2 separate regions of the Homo sapiens genome follow, and region 2 is linked to region 1. Evidence: fine-mapped expression QTL. A gene starts in region 1. The other region holds a variant in brackets. All regions are shown on one strand. Distances are between the middles of the regions.

The links.
Region 2: its variant is fine-mapped to the expression of SPIDR in lung (TOPMed, PIP 0.95).

Annotation. Positions count from the first base shown.
Region 1 is chr8:47,256,070-47,265,711 of GRCh38, reverse strand. It overlaps SPIDR (scaffold protein involved in DNA repair), which reads right to left and starts at 4,774. Exons shown (of 20, transcript NM_001080394.4): 1 at 4,721-4,774. The coding sequence starts at 4,753. RefSeq lists a silencer at 4,511-5,060.
Region 2 is chr8:47,974,108-47,983,749 of GRCh38, reverse strand. It overlaps MCM4 (minichromosome maintenance complex component 4), which reads right to left. Exons shown (of 17, transcript NM_182746.3): 15 at 8,788-9,016; 16 at 7,902-8,035; 17 at 5,590-7,064. The coding sequence ends at 6,972. It also overlaps the pseudogene RNU6-519P. Among named protein-coding and RNA genes, the nearest start is that of MCM4, 18 kb to the right of the region's middle. RefSeq lists a silencer at 9,626-9,642. The variant A/G (reference allele first, on the strand shown) is at 6,614.

The sequences.
Region 1 (9,642 bases):
AAAATAAATGGAATGAGATGTGCAAGGGACTGCTGAGTTTTACAACAAACTTTTTTTGTACTATTTTACCTTACCTATGAACATGTATTATTTTGACTAAAAAGAAAACATGTTTTCCCTTAAATGAGGTACTCTATGCAAAGTGCTTGACATATAGAAAGCTTTCAATAAAAGCTCTCTTTCCTCTCTTTCCCTTTGGTTTGAGGAATAAGACAACCTCTAGGCCAGGCACAGTGGTTCACGCTGTAACCCCAGCACTTTGGGAGGCCAAGGAGAAAGAACGGCTTGAGGTCAGGAATTCGAGACCAGCCTCGGCAACACAGCAAGACTCTATCTCTACAAAATAAATTTAAATATTAGCCAGGCACAGTGGCATGGCCTGTGGTCCCAGCTACTCAGGAGGCCGAAATGGGAGGATCACTTGAGCCCAGGAGCTCAAGACTGCAGTGAGCCATGATAGCACCCCTGCACCCCAGCCTGGGCGACAGAGTAAGACTGTCTCAAAAAAAAAAAAAAAAAAAAAGACAACTGAGATGTCAATACTAAGTAGTCTAATTCTGAGATGTAGAGCCACCAGTAAATCATTCAATGAGACTATCAAGGCCTTAAACTGGAACCATGAGGTACTCCTACCAAGATAACTATGAGAATTTCCTGCCATCACTGAAAAACTTGAAAATGAGCCTTTTTCCTATTTCTTGTTCAAGAAGCTGAAAGACAGCAATTCCAGGGAAATCTAGAGACAAAGCAGTAGAGGATGTACAATATCTTTGTCCTCATATGATTTCTTTAATTATCATGGTGTTTCATTATTAATTGCTTTCATTATCACCAACATTTATTGAGTGTTTATATGCTCGGTATATCATCGCATGCATTCTCATAATTTAATCCTCACATCAACCCAGCAATATAGGTATTAACCCCATTTTATAAAGAAACGACAACTCAATGTTAGGTATATTGCCCTATTCAGAGAACTTGAACCCAGGAGACAGTGGTTGCAGTGAGCCGAGATCGGGCCACTGCACTCCAGCCTGGGTGGCTGAGCAAGACTCCATCTCAAAAAAAAAAAAAGAAAATCTCAAAAGGCAAGCTGCTGCCCAAGAACAGGAGTATATGTGGTCGTCCTTGGCTACTTCATAAGGAAAGGGAGAACACAAGGCACAAAGGGAAGAATCACAGCATGTTAAGGGATAGTGAGGGGCTAGGGCAGGAGAAACTCATGGAGGAGAGGGGAGTGAGGAAAGAACTAAGATACCCCAGCCTTTGAGCAACTGACTGCCCTAATCTCCCTGGGACTTAAATACCACATATCTATATATGTGATATATAGGATATATCTATATATCCTAACATCAGTTAAGAGGCAAACAACTTTCTCACTTCTCATAGGTTCGACTTTCTGAATCACCATGGGTTTCCTCCTCTTCCTCTTTCAATTGCAGTTGCCTAAATCTCACCTTCCATTTGTAGTCTGTCAACCCAGTCCTTTCTATTCTATTCCTAATTCCACCACCTTAGTCCATAACCACACCACCTTTCATCTTAAGAGTCGTGATATATCTGTGTGGCTTGTCCAAAACTGCAAAATCATTCAGCTGTACTGCTGAGGCAGATATCCGAGTCTTCGGACTAGGGTATTTCCTCCTGTTTCTTCACACCTGGAATACTTGCAAATCTTCTAAACTAGTTCTCCTTTCATTAATTCATCAGATATCTAGTACATACAAGGGATATGACAGGTATTCTGGGGAATATGGGCTGAAGAAATAGTCCCTAATCTTAAATGTCTAGAATATAAGGGAATAAAGGTGTAGACACAAATAAACCTAATGTAAGACATGGAATAGTAAGAGTTATTTACATAAAATTCCACAGACTACAGAAGAAAGTTCATTTACAGCTGGGATAATTTGGGAGGTGAAATTTGGGGTGGGCCTCAATGGATGACTAAGATTCCAATCAGCAGAAATGGGAGAACTGGCATTATTCCAAACCAAGAACATACAGAAGAAAGTTCATTTATAGCTGGGATAATTTGGGAGAAGGTGGGATTTGAAGTAGGCCTCAATGGATGATTAAGATTTCATGGCCGGGCGCAGTGGCTCACGCCTGTAATCCCAGCACTTTGGGAGGCCGAGGCGGGCGGATCACGACGTCAGGAGATCGAGACCATCCTGGCTAACACGGTGAAACCCTGTCTCTAATAAAAATTTAAAAAAAATTAGCCCGGTGTGGAGGCTGGCGCCTGTACCGAGATCGCGCCACTGCACTCCAGCCTGGGCGACAGAGCGAGACTGCGTCTCAAAAAAAAAAGGTTTCAATCAGCAGAAATGGGAGAACTGGCATTATTCCAAACCAAGAACATACGCAATTACCACCAAGGGGCAAGCAAGTACAGTGACGCAGTAGTCTAGTTTACCTATAAGATAAATAATGAGCAAAGCTGTAAAGGAATAAGACACAGATATTATGGAGGCTGTGAATAACAGGCTGAGAGCCTGAACAAAAGCAAGGTCTGGGGCAGACTACCTGGATACAAATCCTAGCTTCTTCCCTTAACTGCTGTGTGACCTTAGGCAAATTACTTAGCCTCTCTGCTGAGCCTCAGTTTCCTCATCCATAAAATGAGACTAATGGTATCTACCTCACAGGACTGTTAAAATAATTAAATTAGTTAATACATATAAAGCACTAAACACAGGATAAGTTCTGCAGTAAATTATGATGTAGCCAATAAGAAGTAAAATGAGATTTAGATAGAGGACTAACAATATAATCAAAGTAGTGCCTAAGGGAAAGTCACCTCTGAAGATGGAATGGGAGCATGCTAGCCGGCACTACACATCAACACTCCAACCATTAAGTACTTTTGAGACTGACCGAGGGAGACAGAAACAAAAAATAAATTCCTGGGAAATACTGTGGAAGCCAGCCTCCAAGGTGGCCCCTGTGATCCCCACCTCCTGGGGACCCTCTATAGTCTCCTCATACATTGTACCGGGTTGGTCCATGTAATGAATAGACAGGAGATGGGATGTCACTTCTGAGTTTAGGCTATAAAAGACACGGGGACCGATATCTTGTTGCTCTCTCTCTTGCTCTTGGGAAAGCCAGGACCCTGTTGTGAGCTGCCCTATGCAGCTGTCAAGAAACAACCACGTGAGTGAGCTTGGAACTGGATTCTCCAGCTCCAACGACCCTTTATTTGACTGCAGCCTTGTGGGAGATCCTGAACTACAACCACTTAGTTGAGCCGTTCTCAGATTCCTGAGTCTCAGAAACTCTATGATATAATAAACATTTGTTATGAACTGCTTCAGTTTTCAGCAACGTATTACACAATAGACAACTGTACGACTACTAAAAAAAATTGAGTAAAAAAAAAGAGTCTTGAAAAATGACAAGATGAAGAGACCAGAAGTGAACGTCAATTCAAAAATACTAAGATTTCTAAGTCAAGAGAAACTGTTAGGGCCTGGAGGACTAAGGGTGAGATGATGATTATGTGATGCACTAAGTTTGAGCTCTAGGGAAAGATCTAATATAGATCTGAAAGTCATCTATATAGTTAACTTCAATGTATGACATTGTCCAAAGCAAATATGGAACATGTGAAAAAGCACAAGGTCAAAAATTAGAACATGGCACGAACACAGTAAAGAGAAGAAAATGAGCTGTTGCAAGACAGGAAAACAATCATGGATGTTCCAAAAGAAATAAAAGCAGGTGGTGAATGTGTCAAACGCTCCAATGATCAAGTAAACAACTTACACTGGATTTAGCAAATTTATATATTTCCTTGATTTTTTTCACACATTAATGCTTCAGAAATCAGACTGTATCTTATAATCAAGAGGTGCCTGAAATGAATTTCTTTATTCCCTAAAGCCAGTCACAAAACTGATAGTGTGGGCTGATAATCAATGGTATTTGAGAAGCGAGAAAGCATGGTAGTGGTAAAGAAGTTGAACCAGTATATGTGGTCTATTTTTTCCAGGAAGTTTTCAAGTAAAGGCAAGAGTCAAGAAAGGAGGTCCTGTGTTTGCTTTTTAAAAACCGTTTTACTATGAGACAAACGTATTTGAAAGCAAGGAAGTTAGAAGAAACTTTAAAACGATAAAGGACACATGCCATGACAAGCACAATTAGCAGAACAAAAAAGGATGCACTCGCGGATACAGGTGCAATCAAACACCATTCAAGCAACGATTCCTAGGCACCCGCTCCCGTTCTGGAACCCGAGGCAGCGCGGTGCCCACGGATTGGGCAGTCAGCCGCACAGTCCCCTCCGAGTGCGGCAGGAAGAGAGACAGAGTTGACAGTGGATTATCCGCGGAGACGGGTAAAACCACGCCAGGATTCCCTGCGGTTTGGTACATTACACCAGAATCAAAAAGAGACAAGAGTAAGGCCAAGTACCCCCGAGGCGGACATATGCTCCCGCCCGCTGCGTCCCTCGGCGGTCCCACCCCTCGCTTTCCGTACCGCCGCTGAGGGCCCGGCCCGCACGCCTGGACCGGAGCCGGACCTGGGGGCGGTACCCCACTGCGCGGGCTTGCTCCACGCGCGCAGACGGGACCCGCCACCACCTAGCCCTTCACCCCCAACGCCCACCCTCTCTCACCCCAGCACAACGGGGCCAGCCCCGCGCCGGCCCGCCGCTTCCCCGCAACGCGGGAAACGGCGCGGCGCCCACTCCCGCCCCAGAGCCTACCTTAGAGCCCCGAGCGCGGCTGCCGCGGGGCATCTCCGGGAGCGCCGCCTGAGCGCACCGCCTCCTCAGCGCGCCGCCGTCCCACCTCGGCGCGCCGCACCGCGCCCTGCCATTGGCGGGCGCTCGGGCGCAGGGCGGGGCTTCGGCGGGGGGCAGGGCTTCTCCGGCCCCGGCGCTCCAGGGCCTCCCGGATGGCCTAGTCGGGCCCGGAGCCCGGAAGGAGTGCCCCGCGGAGAGTCGAGCTTCCTTCCCCGGGGCTGGGGGTTCCGCGGAGCTCGCTCTGGGCTGTGGCGTTGCTCGCCCGCGAGCTCCTGGGGAGTTCGGGGGAGCTGCTGGGCTGGTGCCTGGAGCGGGGGCCGCCTCCAAGTATTGTCTTTCGAATTAAGTTACTGTCGTCTGTGTTGTCAGGCAACAACTGACCTTAAATAAAAATGAAAACCAGAAGTAGGCTACACATGCAATAGGCTACACATGCAATAATGGATACTTAAGGAATGGGAGTGGCTGCTGGTGACTGGAGCAGAGAGGGTGTGGTTTCCCCATGTTTCGGGGCCGGGGGGAAGGAGTAAAGTCTGTGTTCAGAGCCCAGACGCCATGTCGGTCATCACATCACCGGGAGAACTCGTGGAGCCTGAGGAAAGGCTACGGGGTGCCAGAGTCTGAAGGGGCGGAAGATTGCATTCCTATCACGTTCGCCGTGGCGCACAGGGGCTCCGCTGGGGCCGCCGCTCCCGCAGGAGAAGTGGGCCTGAGACGGTGCGGCGTCGACCATAGCCGGCCCAGCAGAAGCCGGGGAAGGCCACAAGTGTAACTGGGTCCGAGTACTGTGAAGAAGGCGCCTCCCATGGAGAAAGCTACCGGGTAGTTTAACAAGGTGGAAAAGCGTTGGCCTGGGGAGGAGGAAAGGATGCTCAGAAAGTTGCCTCAAAAGGACGCAGAAGTGGAGGTGAATCTTCTGTTTCAGAGGCATTTTTTTGTGCCTCTGTGAGAATGCATTGCTTCCTGGTTGATCCATCTTCAGGTTTTCTCTCCGTCCTAGTCCCTGTTCTGCCACCATTCTGTGTTTGAATCTGGTACCTAAAGCCGCAGATACTTGGTTCATAGTAGATGTCCACTCTGCAGTGGCTGAAAACACGGAAGAAAAACCATCTTTGCCTGGGAAGGACATTATTGCTAGTGCCATTACTGTCAACAGTTGGAACAAGATAAACGGCATGCCCAATCTAGTTGAGGATTTTGGACACCGGGCCTCCCACTGGGACTCCGCCGAGAAACCAGGTCTGCCATTGCCACCTCCGCCGGGCCTTGCTGTCTTAGCACAGTAAGTGCACCCGACCGCGCCCGGAGTCCCCCTTTCACTCCCACAACCAGGCCTGTGGTGAGGCTCCCGCTTGTCATCTCCACCAGGAGGTGCTGTCCTGCCGAAATGTTGGGGTTTTTCTCCAAACTTCCTCCTGTTCAGAATTCGCCATCTCAGTAGTGGCATGGACATCCACCTGGCCACAGCTCACGCAGAAACCTAGGAATTTTTGTGAACACGTTTGTGTGTCTTACTAATGTGTCCACTCTCCACTACCACTGTTTCCCAGGCCACTAGTATCTTTTGCCCAGACTGCTAGTAGCTCTTAACCCATGTCCCCTAATCCACTCTTGCCCCTCACACAGCACACACATACAATCCATTCTCAACACAGACACCACAGTGAGGTTTATGCTGTCTATACTGGCCTTCCCTTTCGGTGGTCAAACGTGCCTAGCTCCTGCAGCCTTGGGGTCTAATAAGCATTTGCTCTTCCTTTTGCCTAAAAGGCTCTGGCCTCCCTCTGCCATGCCATTTCCTATGCGCCTGTCAAACCTGAACCTGGTGGCCAGCTTCCCTAAACTAGCAAGCCTGAACCTCCCTGCTCTTCCATGTCCGCAGGACCTCATGCTCTGTTGAAGATGTTATAACAATTAGAATCTAAATAATTACGAAAGTTATTTGTTTACCATGTGGTTCCACCTCCATGCTGTAAGGTAATACCATTTCTATCTTCTCCGTTTTTGTATCTCTATCAGTTAGCACAGCGTCTTCCATATACAAAGTACTCAGTTATTTACTATGGATGAACTGCTAATTGTGAAACAGAAATGACTTGCCAGAGGCTGCACAGCTAGTAACTGTTCAGGATTAGAACTCATATGTGATACCAAGGTCGATGCATTCTCCACTACACCAATCAGATCATAGTAGAATCATGAGGAATTTTTCACTTGAACATATGAACTCAGCAAAAGGGAACTGTTGATAATAAAGATGAGCCCCTGCAGAAAGGGTCTCTTAAGTCCTCTCCAGTCTTGCCTCATTTCCTCCTCAGCAAACACTCAATGGCAAACATCAAGACAAACCAGAAAGTCCTTCTTTTAACTTTTTTCTCATCAAACTTTTTGGCCTAGTTGCTGTTCTGCAGATATCTGTGGTCTTCACTCTGCTTACAGCCATCCTAAGGATTCCATGGAGATCCATGGAGTCTGGGGAGGGTGTGACTCACAGGAGGGTCTCTGCTGCACCTTCAGGGCAGCTCTCTTCCATCTGTCTTATATATGGGGCAAGATTGTATTTAAAGAAAGATCTAATATGGGGAGAAATGTTTAGAATCTACTCATCCATATTCTTTTTTAGTCTGGTAGATGACAGTGCTCTAGGCTATAAATGAATCCAAGATTTAAACGTGAAAAAATGTCAAGGTATTAGAATAAAACATGACCAGATTCCTTTATAATCTTAGAGTGGGGGAAAGGGGAGAAAGTCTTTCCAACTATGACTCAAAATGTCCTAGTCGTAATAGGAAAGATTGATCGATTCAACTACATAAAAACCCTAATTTATGCATGGCAAAAAAAACACAGTAGGCAAAGACAAATGGCAAAATTAAAGAATAGTTCATATTGATGTTATATAGAAACAGCCCCCTAAAGTATAAATTACTCTTGGAGGAGTAAGCAAGAGTATTCCTTGGGGGAAACCCAGTAGAAAATGGGCAAAGGACAAGGGCAGTTCACAGAGAAAGGAACACAAATGGCTTTTATACATATGAAAAATGTACTGTCTCACTCATGACAAGAGAAATGCAAATTTAAACTGCACACCTACCATATTGGCTAAAATCTAAGTCCTGGACAACACATATTGGGGTAAGGGCCCTCTAATGTATTGCTAACAAAAGTACAAAATTATGCAACTCCTATCAAATATGCTTCAAAATTATAAGTGTATTTACTCTTTAAGCTAGCAGTCCTACTTCTGGAAACTAATCCTACACATACACCTGCACACATATTGTCTTAGTCTGTTTTGTGCTGCTATAACAGAATATCTGAGACTGGGTAGTTTACAAAGAACAGATACTTACTTTCTCACTCTGAGAAATCTGAGATCAAGGAGCTGGCATTTGGTGTCTGGTGTGGGCCTTCCTGCTGCATCTTCACATGGCAGAAGGCAGAAGGGCAAGAAAGCAAGCTAGCTGAATGCTGCGTGAAGCCTCTTATAAGGGCCTTAATCCTATTAGTGATGGAGGAGCCTTCATGGCCTATTTGGCAACACCTGAATTTTAGAGGATACACATATGAAATGATAACACATGTGAAATGATATGTATGTAAGGGTATTTTTTGCAGCATAGTTTGCAATAGCAAAAGACTAGAAAAAATTGATATATTTGTTTACTTGGAGAGTAAGGAGACTGTTAAATGTGCCATGGTAATACCTTCATAATGATCTCCAGCTTTACTAAATGAAAAAAACAATTGACAGAATATGATTCATAGTGTGCTGCCTCTCTAGTGCAAGAAAACAGGAAAAGACCATATATTGCTTATATCTGCTTGAAGAAATGCTACATCGAAATAGATGTATAGGAAATAAAAGGGGTTACCTGGTGGAGGGGAGGAACCAAGTGATTGGGATGAGGGGAGGAGGACTTCTCCATCTCTACTTTTTTATGTTGTTTTGTATACCTATTTTTAAAACAGATTGAAAAATTAAGAAAAATGTGTACTTTGTTCTAGAGTGATGATGGTTGTACAACTGTGAATATTGTAACAAATCACTGAATGGTACACTTTAAAGGGTGATTTTATGGTATTTGAATTATATTTCAATAAAATAATTATTTTAAAAATGTTTGGTGAGGGGCTGGTAGCATCAGCAGCATCTGAGAAATTGTCAGAAATGCAAATTCTTGGACTCCATACTAGACCAATTGAATCAGAAACCTGGTGGACAAGGCCTGGCAATCTGTTTTGACAAGCCCTTCAACTGACTCTGATGCATGCTCACCTGTGAGAAGCACTGGACTGGATGCAATTGCACGGAGTAACAGGCTGTTGCACAGTGGTCTCCCACAAAACATCCGACTAGGAGATCCGTGCACTCAGGGTGGGAAGAAAAGGCCTTGTCAGCCTTTTCTTTAATCATTGACTACAATAATGTTAATAATAATAATATGACATTTATATGTGCAGGCAATGTTAATCCCTTTATATGAAATGAAAATAGTGCCTCACCTGATGGGTTAGAACACAGCAGATACATAGTAAGTGCCCAGGAAGTGTTAGCAATTATTATTATCATTTATCTCAGAAAATCTCTATGACAATTGTGTGAAGTACAATTATGATTACATATGAGATAATTGCACCACAGACATGTTATATAACTTGCAAAAAGCCACAAACCCAATAAGTGGTAAAGCCCAAAGCACAGAGGTTTTCAACTTTGGTGAATCTCACTTTATCTCTTTTTCCTGATCACACTTTGAGAACCATGGATCTAGGTTCTCAAAAGTATACAAATGGTTTATATATATATATATAAAAAGTAGGAGTGGAAAATAGAGTCAAATGCAGATTATTCAAGGAATGTGCATTCATTCATTCAACAA
Region 2 (9,642 bases), 720 kb before region 1:
TATTATTTTGAGACAGAGTCTCTCACGCCCAGGCTGGAGTGCAGTGGCGTGATCTCGGCTCACTGCAAGCTCTGCCTCCCAGGTTCACGCCATTCTCCTGCCTCAGCATCCCGATTAGCTAGGACTACAGGAGCCTGCCACCACGTCCAGCTAATTTTTTGTATTTTTAGTAGAGACAGGGTTTCACCATGTTAGCCAGGATGGTCTCGATCTCCTGACCTTGTCATCTGCCCACCTTGGTCTCCCAAAGTGCTGGGATTATAGGCGTGAGCCACTGCGCCTGGCCAATATTTTTTTAAAGATGGGGTGTTGGCTGGGCTCGGTGGCTCACATCTCTAATCCCAGCACTCTGGGAAGCTGAGGTGGTGTATCACCTGAGGTCAGGAGTTCGAGACCAGCCTGGCCAACATGGTGAAACCCCATCTCTACTAAAGATATAAAAAATTAGCCTGGCGTGGTGGCGCATGCCTGTAATCCCAGCTACTCGGGAGGCTGAGGCAGGAGAACAGCTTGAACCCGGGATGTGGAGGTTGCAGTGAGCTGAGATCATGCCACCGCACTCCAGCCTGGGCAACAGAGTGAGACTCTGTCTCAAAAAAAAAAAAAATTAGCTTGGCACAGTGGCACACGCCTGTAGTCCCAGCCAGCTAGCCGGGAGACTGAGGTGGGAGGATCAATTGGGTCCTGGAGGTCAAGGCTGCAGTGAGCTGTGATTGCACCACTGCACTCCAGTCTGGGTGAGATAGGTTAAGATCCTATCTCAAACAAAACAAAACAAAACACCTCCCCTAAACCCACAAACTTTCCAACTGGGGCCACCATAATTCTAATTTTTTTTTTTTTTGAGACTGCATATCACTCTTGTTGCCCAGGCTGGAGTGCAACAGCACGATCTTGGCTCACTGCAACCTCGCCTCCCAGGTTCAAGCGATTCTCCTGCCTCAGCCTCCTGAGTAGCTGAGATTACAGGCATGTACCACCATGCCCAGCTAATTTTGTATTTTTAGTAGAGATGGAGTTTCAACATTTTGGTCAGGCTGGTCTCGAACTCCTGACCAGAGGTGGTCTACCTGCCTCGGCCTCCCAAAGTGCTGGGATTACAGGTGTGAGCCACCGCAACTAGGCATTATTTTTTTACCATATGTACCCATATCTCTAGAAATGCACAGGTTCTGAGCAGGAGTCCCAGACTCCTTGGATTCAGATGAACCTATTATTTTCTGACTTCTTGAAACATTACCTACCTGAGACTTCCCGCAGAACCCAGGTTGAATCCAATCTGATGTCTGGCCCTAGTCTGAATGAAAAATGCTCAAATAAACTCCTAAGTTGCCACAAGTTGTGAAAACTTGTATCTATCAAGGGGGCTTATCGATGCAGGTAGAAAAACAAGCACAATGGCTTCACCAGTGCCCCTACAGGTGGCTCATTGCTGCAGGTGCCACCCTCAGTGCCCTCCTTCAGATCCTCACTTCTGACAGGGCTACTATGAGATAAACTTAGGCATATATATTCAAATTTTAAAGTTTATTTGAGCAGACAAGGCAGCACCAGACCATAAGAAAACCTTCGTAAGGTGTTCATGGAAGCAAGACAAGTTTAAAAAAAAAATATATATATATATGTATTTATTTATTTATATATTTATATTTAATCCCTGAATAGCTGGGATTACAGGTGTAAGCCACCAAGCCCGGCTATAAAATATATTGAATGCAGGGGCTGGGCACGGTGGCTCACACCTGTAATCCCAGCACTTGGGGAGGCCGAGGTGGGCAGATCACCTGGAGTTCGAGACCAGCCTGGCCAACATGGTGAAACCCTGTCGCTACTAAAAATACAAAAATCAGCCAGGTGTGGTGGCACACGCCTGTTGTACCAGCTACTCGGGAGGCTGAGGCAGAAGAATTGCTTGAACCTGGGAGTTGGAGGCTGCAGTGAGCTGAGACCACACCATTGCACTCCAGTCTGGGTAACAGAGTGAGACTGTCTCAAAAACAACAACAACAACAACAACAACAACTACAAAAAAAAAAAAAAGGAAATCGAGGGAACATATGAACAAAAATGAGAATATCAACAAAGAGATAGAAATTACTAAAACGAGGCCAGGAACAGTTGTTCATGCCTGTAATCCCAGGCATGATTACAAAAAAAAAAAAAAATTAGCCAGGCATGGTGGCACACGTTTGTAATCCCAGCTACTCAGGAGACTGAGACAGGAGAACCACTTGAACCCATGAGGTGGAGGTTGCAGTGAGCCAAGATTGGTTCTGTTCAGCCTGGGCGACAGGAAAAAAAAAAAAAAAAAAAAAAAAAAAGCATCCATTAAAGGCTGGGTGCAGGGGCACATACTTGTAATCTTAGTATTTTGGGAGGCAGACGCAGGATGATTGCTGAGGCCAGGAGTTTGAAAAAAGCCTGGGCAAGGTAGCAAGACCCCATCTCTAAAAATTAGCTAGGCATCATGGTGTGTGCCTGTAGTCCCAGCTATTCAGGAGGCTGAGGTAGGAGGATCACTTGACCCCAGGAGTTTGAGGCTGCAGTGAGCTACGATCACACCACTGCACTCCAGCCTGGGTGACAGAGGGATACCCTCTGTCTTTAAAAAAAAAAAAAAAAAAAAAAGGCCGGGCACGATGGCTCACACCTATAATCCCAGCACTTTGGGAGGCCGAGGTGGGCGGATCATCTGAGTCCAGGAGTTCAAGACCAGCCTGGCCAACATGGTGCAACCCCGTCTCTACTAAAAATAAAAAAAATTAGCTAGGCCTGGTGGTGGGCGCCTGTAATCCCAGCTACTAGGGAGGCTGAGGCAGGAGAATCGCTTGAACCCGGGAGGTGGGGGTTGCAGTGAGCTGAGATCGCACCACTGCACTGCAGCCTGGGTGACAGAGACAGGCTCTGTTTCAAAAAAACAAAACAAAACAAAACAAAACAAAACAAAAAAGCAAACTTGATAAAATAATATCATTAAAGGAATGTCAGAGTGAAGGGTATATGGAAACTATACTGTTCTTGCAACTTTTGTGTAAGTTTGAAATTATTTCTATTTTTTTTTTTTTTTGAGATGGGAGTCTTGCTCTGTTGCCCAGGCTGGGATGCAGTGGTATGATCTTGGCTCACCACAACCTCTGCCTCCCGGGTTCAAGCGATTCTACTGCCTCAGCCTCCTGAATAGCTGGGACTACAGGCACGCACTACCATGCCCGGCTAATTTTTTTTTTGTATTTTTAGTAGAGACGGGGTTTCACTATGTCAGCCAGGCTGGTCTTGAACTCCTGACCTCGGGTGATCCATCCGCCTCAGCCTCCCAAAGTGCTGGGATTACAGGTGTGAGCCACAGTGCCTGGTCATGAAATTAGTTCAAAATAATAGTTTAAAAAACTGAATTACAGAAGAATTTTAAGAGTTTCTTAGATTTAGTAAGCAACAGCAGTTTTTAAAAGTATTTCCTAACTGATGTGCTGAGTCATTAAATTCTGGGTTTCCTCATTCCTCTTATTAGTTGTGTACTCCTTTAGATGGAGTTGGTTTTATCTATGATGGATGCTGAAGGAGAATGGCACATGCATTCTCCAATCAAATAAAGCAAGTCGTTTTAATTAGCAATACTAGATATCTCCTGGGTTCCATGAGATTATGAGGCATACCCTCTAAGGGAATACTTATAAGAATTTATGGGGCAGGACTGTAATTCCTCTTATTCCTCCACTCTACAGCCTAATACTTCGCTGTTTTCAAGAATGCCTTCTGACTTTTACACCTTCACCCTCCTTTCATAGGAGTTATCTCTACTAACATGTAACAAGCATCTAGCGCCAAGCACCAGGTACTGCACTGAAGGATACGACCATTCCTTCTCTCAAGAAACTTATGACCAGTAGGCAGGTTACAGACATAAACAAGTTTGCTAAATAACTACAATTTTTTTTTTCTTTTGAGATGGAGTCTCACTCTGTCACCCAGGCGAGTGCAAGGGCATGATCTCGTCTCACTGCAACCTCCGCCTCCTGGGTTCAAGTGATTCAGCCTCCTGAGTAGCTGGGATTACAGGCACCTGCCACCATGCCCAGCTAATTTCTGTATTTTTAGTAGAGATGGAGTCTCACCATGTTGGTCAGGCTGGTCTCGAACTCCTGACCTCTTGATCCGCCTGCCTCGGCATCCCAAAGTGTTGGGATTATAGGCGTGAGCCATTGTGCCTGGCCAAATTTTAGTTTTTATTGAAAGTATAGAATGCTTCATGGATTTGTGTGTCAAACTTTGTGCAGGGGCCATGATAATCTTTTGTGTATCATTCCAATTCTCACATATGTGTGGCTGAAGCAAGCACTGAATTATTTTAGACTCTGGAGAAAACAAAGTTTACTGAATTAAACTGAGATTCACTATGATGGAACCTGACAGCAACAGGACAACCCCATTATTTTCATTCTACTAAAATCCCCTTAAAATGAAACTATACACACACTTCATCTACAGTTGAATATACCTTCAACTTGGTATTCAAATACTAGGTTTAGAAAAATATTACTAGTACATAAACTTCAGGGGGAAATCATCTTAGTCAATAAGTACAGATTATTTAATTATTGTTCGACTTATGATTTTTCAACTTTACATGGTATAAAGCTGTTACAATTTCAATGTTCTTCAAATTTTGAATTTTGACTGACCTTTTCTTGTGTTACCAATGTGGTACACAAGACATTTAACACTTTATTTGAGACAGTATCACACCATCGCCAGGCTGGAGTGCAGTGGCATGATTTCCGCTCACTGTAACCTCCACCTCCGGGGTTCAAGCAATTCTCCTGCCTCAGCCTCCTGAGTAGCTGAGATTATAGGCACTCACCACCACACTGAGCTAATTTTTTTTTTATTTTTAGTAGAGACAGGGTTTGGCCATGTTGGCCAGACTGGTCTTGAACTCCTCACTTCAGGATCCACCTGCCTTGGCCTCCCAAAGTGTTGGGATTACAGGCGTGAGCCACTGCACCCAACCGTAACACTTTATTGTAAAATAGGCTTTGTTTTGCACTATTTTACTCAACCATAGGCTGATTTAAGTATGCTCAGCCTTTTTAAGGTAGGCTAGGCTAAGGTATGTTTGGTAGATTAGGTGTATTAAAAACATTTTCGACTTAGGATATTTAATACAGCATTCTACTGCTAACATTTTAATGCTATTTAAATATTCAATTAGATCTTTTTTTTTTTCTTTTTTTGAGATGGAGTCTCACTCTGTTGCCCAGCCTGGAGTGCAGTGGCATGATCTCGGCTCACTGCAAGCTCCGCCTCCTAGGTTCATGTCATTCTCCTGCCTCAGCCTCCAGAGTAGCTGGGACTACAGGTGCCCGCCACCAGGCCCGGCTAATTTTTTTTGTATTTTTAGTAGAGACGGGGTTTCACAGTGTTAGCCAGGATGGTCTCGATCTCCTGACCTCATGATCCAGCCATCTCGGCCTCCCAAAGTGCTGGGATTACAGGTGTGAGCCACCGCGCCCGGCCAGATCTATCATTTTCTATGGATACTTTATTAAAAAATGTTGATTCCAAGTTATAAAAAAGGCCCAACTCATATGATTTAAAGGTTTCAGAAATTATTTATTGTAGTAGTACTTACACGTAAGATTTTAGCCTATGGTCATTTTATAAAGATGACTGTTAGGATTTAATTCACATTTAAAGAAAATGAGATTCGTTATATTATGGTGTTTTTTATGACCTATAAAATACTTACCCCTACAAATTTCCATAAATGTAGTGGTTAGTAAAGCTTTTTTCTTACTGAAAAATAATGCCAGGTAACCAAGTATTATTCCTTCCATCATTTATTTAGGAAAAAGTTTTATGTATTAGGGTAAAGTGGTAGAAGTTAACCTAGAATCTAATAATCTCCAATCACCCATTCCTGATCTAATAGTAGCCATGAGAAAAAATCTCTAGAAAGAATCATACCTCTCAAAAAATAAAAAATAAAACAAAGGCTGGGTGCAGTGGCTCACACCTGTAATCTCAGCACTTCCGGAAGTTGAGGTGGGCAGATCGCTTGAGCCTAGGCATATCGCTTGCAGCCTGGGCAACGTGGCGAAGCCGTCTCTACCAAAAAATACAAAAAGTAGCCGGGCATAGTGACATACACCTGAGCCCAGGAGGTTAAGCCTACATTGAGCCGTGATTGTACCAGTGTACTCTAGCCAGGGTGACAGAGTAAGACCCTATCTCAAAAAAAGAAGTGCCATAAAAAAGAAAGGCTCTAGCCCTTTACCAATGAGGTGATATGCCCAGGCTATGCCTGTCATCAAATCCATAAGCATACTGATGATGGCCATGAGAAAGTCCAGCACACAAACCATGCCCCAGACTGCATCTGTGCATACACAGAGTAAAAGCCCTGCTGCTATACTATAAAATGGCACCTGAAAATAATCTCTACGGTATGTTTGAAAATTGGCAGGTTTTTTTTTTTTTTTTTTTTTTGAGACAGTCTCACTCTATTGCTGAGGCTGGAGTGCAGTGGCGCGATCTTGGCTCACTGCAACCTCTGCCGCCTGGGTTTAAGCGATTCTCCTGCCTCAACCTCCCGAGTAGCTGGGATTACAGGCGC[A/G]TGCCATCAAGCCCAGCTAATTTTTTGTTATCTTTACTAGAGACGGGGTTTCACCATCTTGGCTAGGCTGGTCTTGAACTCCTGACCTCATGATCCACCCACATTGGCCTCCCAAAGTGCTGGGATTACAGGTGTGAGCCACCGCGCCCGGCCAGCATAGTATTTTTATTTATAACGTGAAAAAAATGAAAACAGATACTTCACTACAAATATTGAACCCAAGTTAGAAAATTTTTATGCAGCCAAACCATGACTTTAAGCTCTATTTACACTGATGGCGGCCAACTGAGATGCAGACCACACCCATGTGGCGTGCAGCAAGCAGGACATGCAGGGAGCCTTCCTTGCTCACAAGGCTTCAGAGCAAGCGCACGGTCTTCCCAGTCACTGTCAGGAAATCATCATCTGCCAGGGCACGCAGTGCTTCTTCAAACATATCTTTAGTAATTGCCTGTGGGGAAGAGAAAGAAAATAAATATTGTACACGTCAAGTCCCTCCTTTACCTGTTAGAAACACAATAATTATAATGTTAAAGTACCACCCAGAATCTTTCTCTTTTTGGTGGCTGTACACATGCCTTATGCTCTAAATCAGGAGTGGAGTAGCCAGATGGTCCATGTGGTAGACTTGGCATCTGTATAGTCCACGTTGTAACTATCAACTCTGCCCTCTCAGTCACAACACAGCGATGGAAAGTGGACCAGCACTGAAAGACTGCATAGTTCTTTTCACTAAACAACTACCTTACTTATTTACAAAAGGACACCCAAATATTTCATACCTAAAGCAAACTTATAACAACTATGAAAGGGGCATAACAATTTTTTCTTTTTTTTTTTTTTTGAGATGGAGTTCCGCTCTGGTGCCCAGGCTGGAGAGCAATGGTGGGATCTCAGCTTACTGCAACCTCCGCCTCCCAGGTTCAAGCAATTCTCCTGCCTAAGCCTCCTGAGTAGCTAGGATTTCAGGTGCTTATCACCACATCCAGCTAATTTTTGTATTTTTAATAGAGACAGGGTTTCACCATATTGGTCAGGCTGGTTTCAAACTCCTGGCTGCAAGTGATCTGCCCACCTCAGCGTCCCAAATGAGATTACAGGCGTGAGCTACTGCACCCAGCCAAAAATTTTAATTGTGATTATTTCTTGATGATGGCTTATGGTTCATCTTCCTTTTCTTCATTCTTCTCTATATTTATTATTTAATAAATAAAGGAAAAAAACCCAAAAGCAATATTAAGGAAAAAGAGAAAGCTCTATCAAACAAAAAATACATATAAACACTTACTATGTCAGATTGTCCCCGAATATCTTCAAAAAGTTGCTGGTATTTTAGAGCTGGTGTTTTGCCCTTAGATAAAATAAGCTTTTTCAATGCTTCAGCTAATTCTTCTTTCCGTTTACGAGAGGTGGCACTCATCCCTGATTTAAAAAGAAATCAATGAAAACATTTTTGCTATTATGAAATGAAATGCTTCAAATTCTCAAAAATATTCCTTTAGTAGTATCACCTAGAAAGATAAGGCGACAGGGGCTGAGTACATTTGAAGGGAATGAGTTTTTAATTATTTGGAAATTTCTGTAAGCCACTAGCTGCTGCTTTCCTTAACAGTCTACACATCTGTGCAGCAAGCAGCTGCTGCTAAGAAACAAACAACTTCTCTAAAATGGGTTAACAAAACTTCCCAGACAGTCAAGGAGACAGAATCTCCTTAAAACTATACACAAAACTGGAATTGAACAATGAGAACACACGGACACAGGAAGGGGAACATCACACACCAGGGCCTGTTGTGGGGTGGGGGGAGGGGGGAGGGATAGCATTTGGAGATACACGTAATGTTAAATGACGAGTTACTGGGTACAGCACACCAACATGGCACATGCGTACATATGTAACTAAACTGCACGTTGTGCACATGTACCCTAAAACTTAAAGTATAAAAAAAAAAAACAAAAAAAAACTATACACAAAACTGTGTGTGTTAATCAATATTTTTATCAAGATAAGATTAAAGGGCAACTTTCATCAGATTCTCAAAGGGGTCCTAATCCAAAAAAGGTTAAGAACTTCTGTTTCAAATGATTTAACTGTTAGCTTAAATCTGACATATAAACTACATGCATATTGAAATAATTTTCAAAAGCTTTTCTGTTCACTGAAAATAACGAACCCGTAGTAAGAATAGATATGTCCACGATGCCAGTCCGGGGATCAGTTGCAGACTGCTTCAGAGCTTCCCGATGGAGGCGTTTGGCCTCTTCCACATCAATGGCTTCAACTTTGTTAGACAATCTTACTTTAGCATGGGCTTCTGCTAAGCGGATTAATGACTCTAGCTGTCGAGGGTATGCAGAAACCATTCCCCGGCTACTGCCAATCTTCCTCATGTCTACATAAGCCTATTGTAGGTAGAAAAACAAAAGCAAAAGCAAACCTCCTTGGTGACAACTTTAGTTTTGTGGGTGAATTTTGAACACTTAGGCTTCCATTAAGTAAACGGAACTCAGATATGGTCCTGGGCCCCGGAGCTCATCAAGTGGTAGAGACTACACAGACAGACCACAGAAATCGCAGGTGAAGACATCAACGTGCAGCGTGCAGTGGTGGGTGAACATATTCCAACTGGGAGATGCTTGGGAAGAATTCTTGGAGAGGGTGGCATCTAACGTAGCTCTGAAGAACAGAGACGGGCATGGCGTGGCAGAGGGAAGGAATGTGGCATGTGGGGAGAGGAGAAGGCTGTGAGCACTCATAGGGAGAATCAGGCCTGTCTGGGAAAAGTGCTCACATGGGGCACAATGGGGCTCATAAGGATTGCTGGGAGAATGCTGCAAAGGTAAGTTGTATCAATTTCACATACAGATGACACAGTCTTATTTCTTCATTAACAACCCCCAAGACTATGACACACAAAAAAATTACATAATGTCTGTAACTTTCATCTTAGAATTTTTAGGAGCTCAGTTAGGATGCAAAGCTCATCAAAGCACCAGGAACCTTCTTAATATCACAATGCTTGAATAAC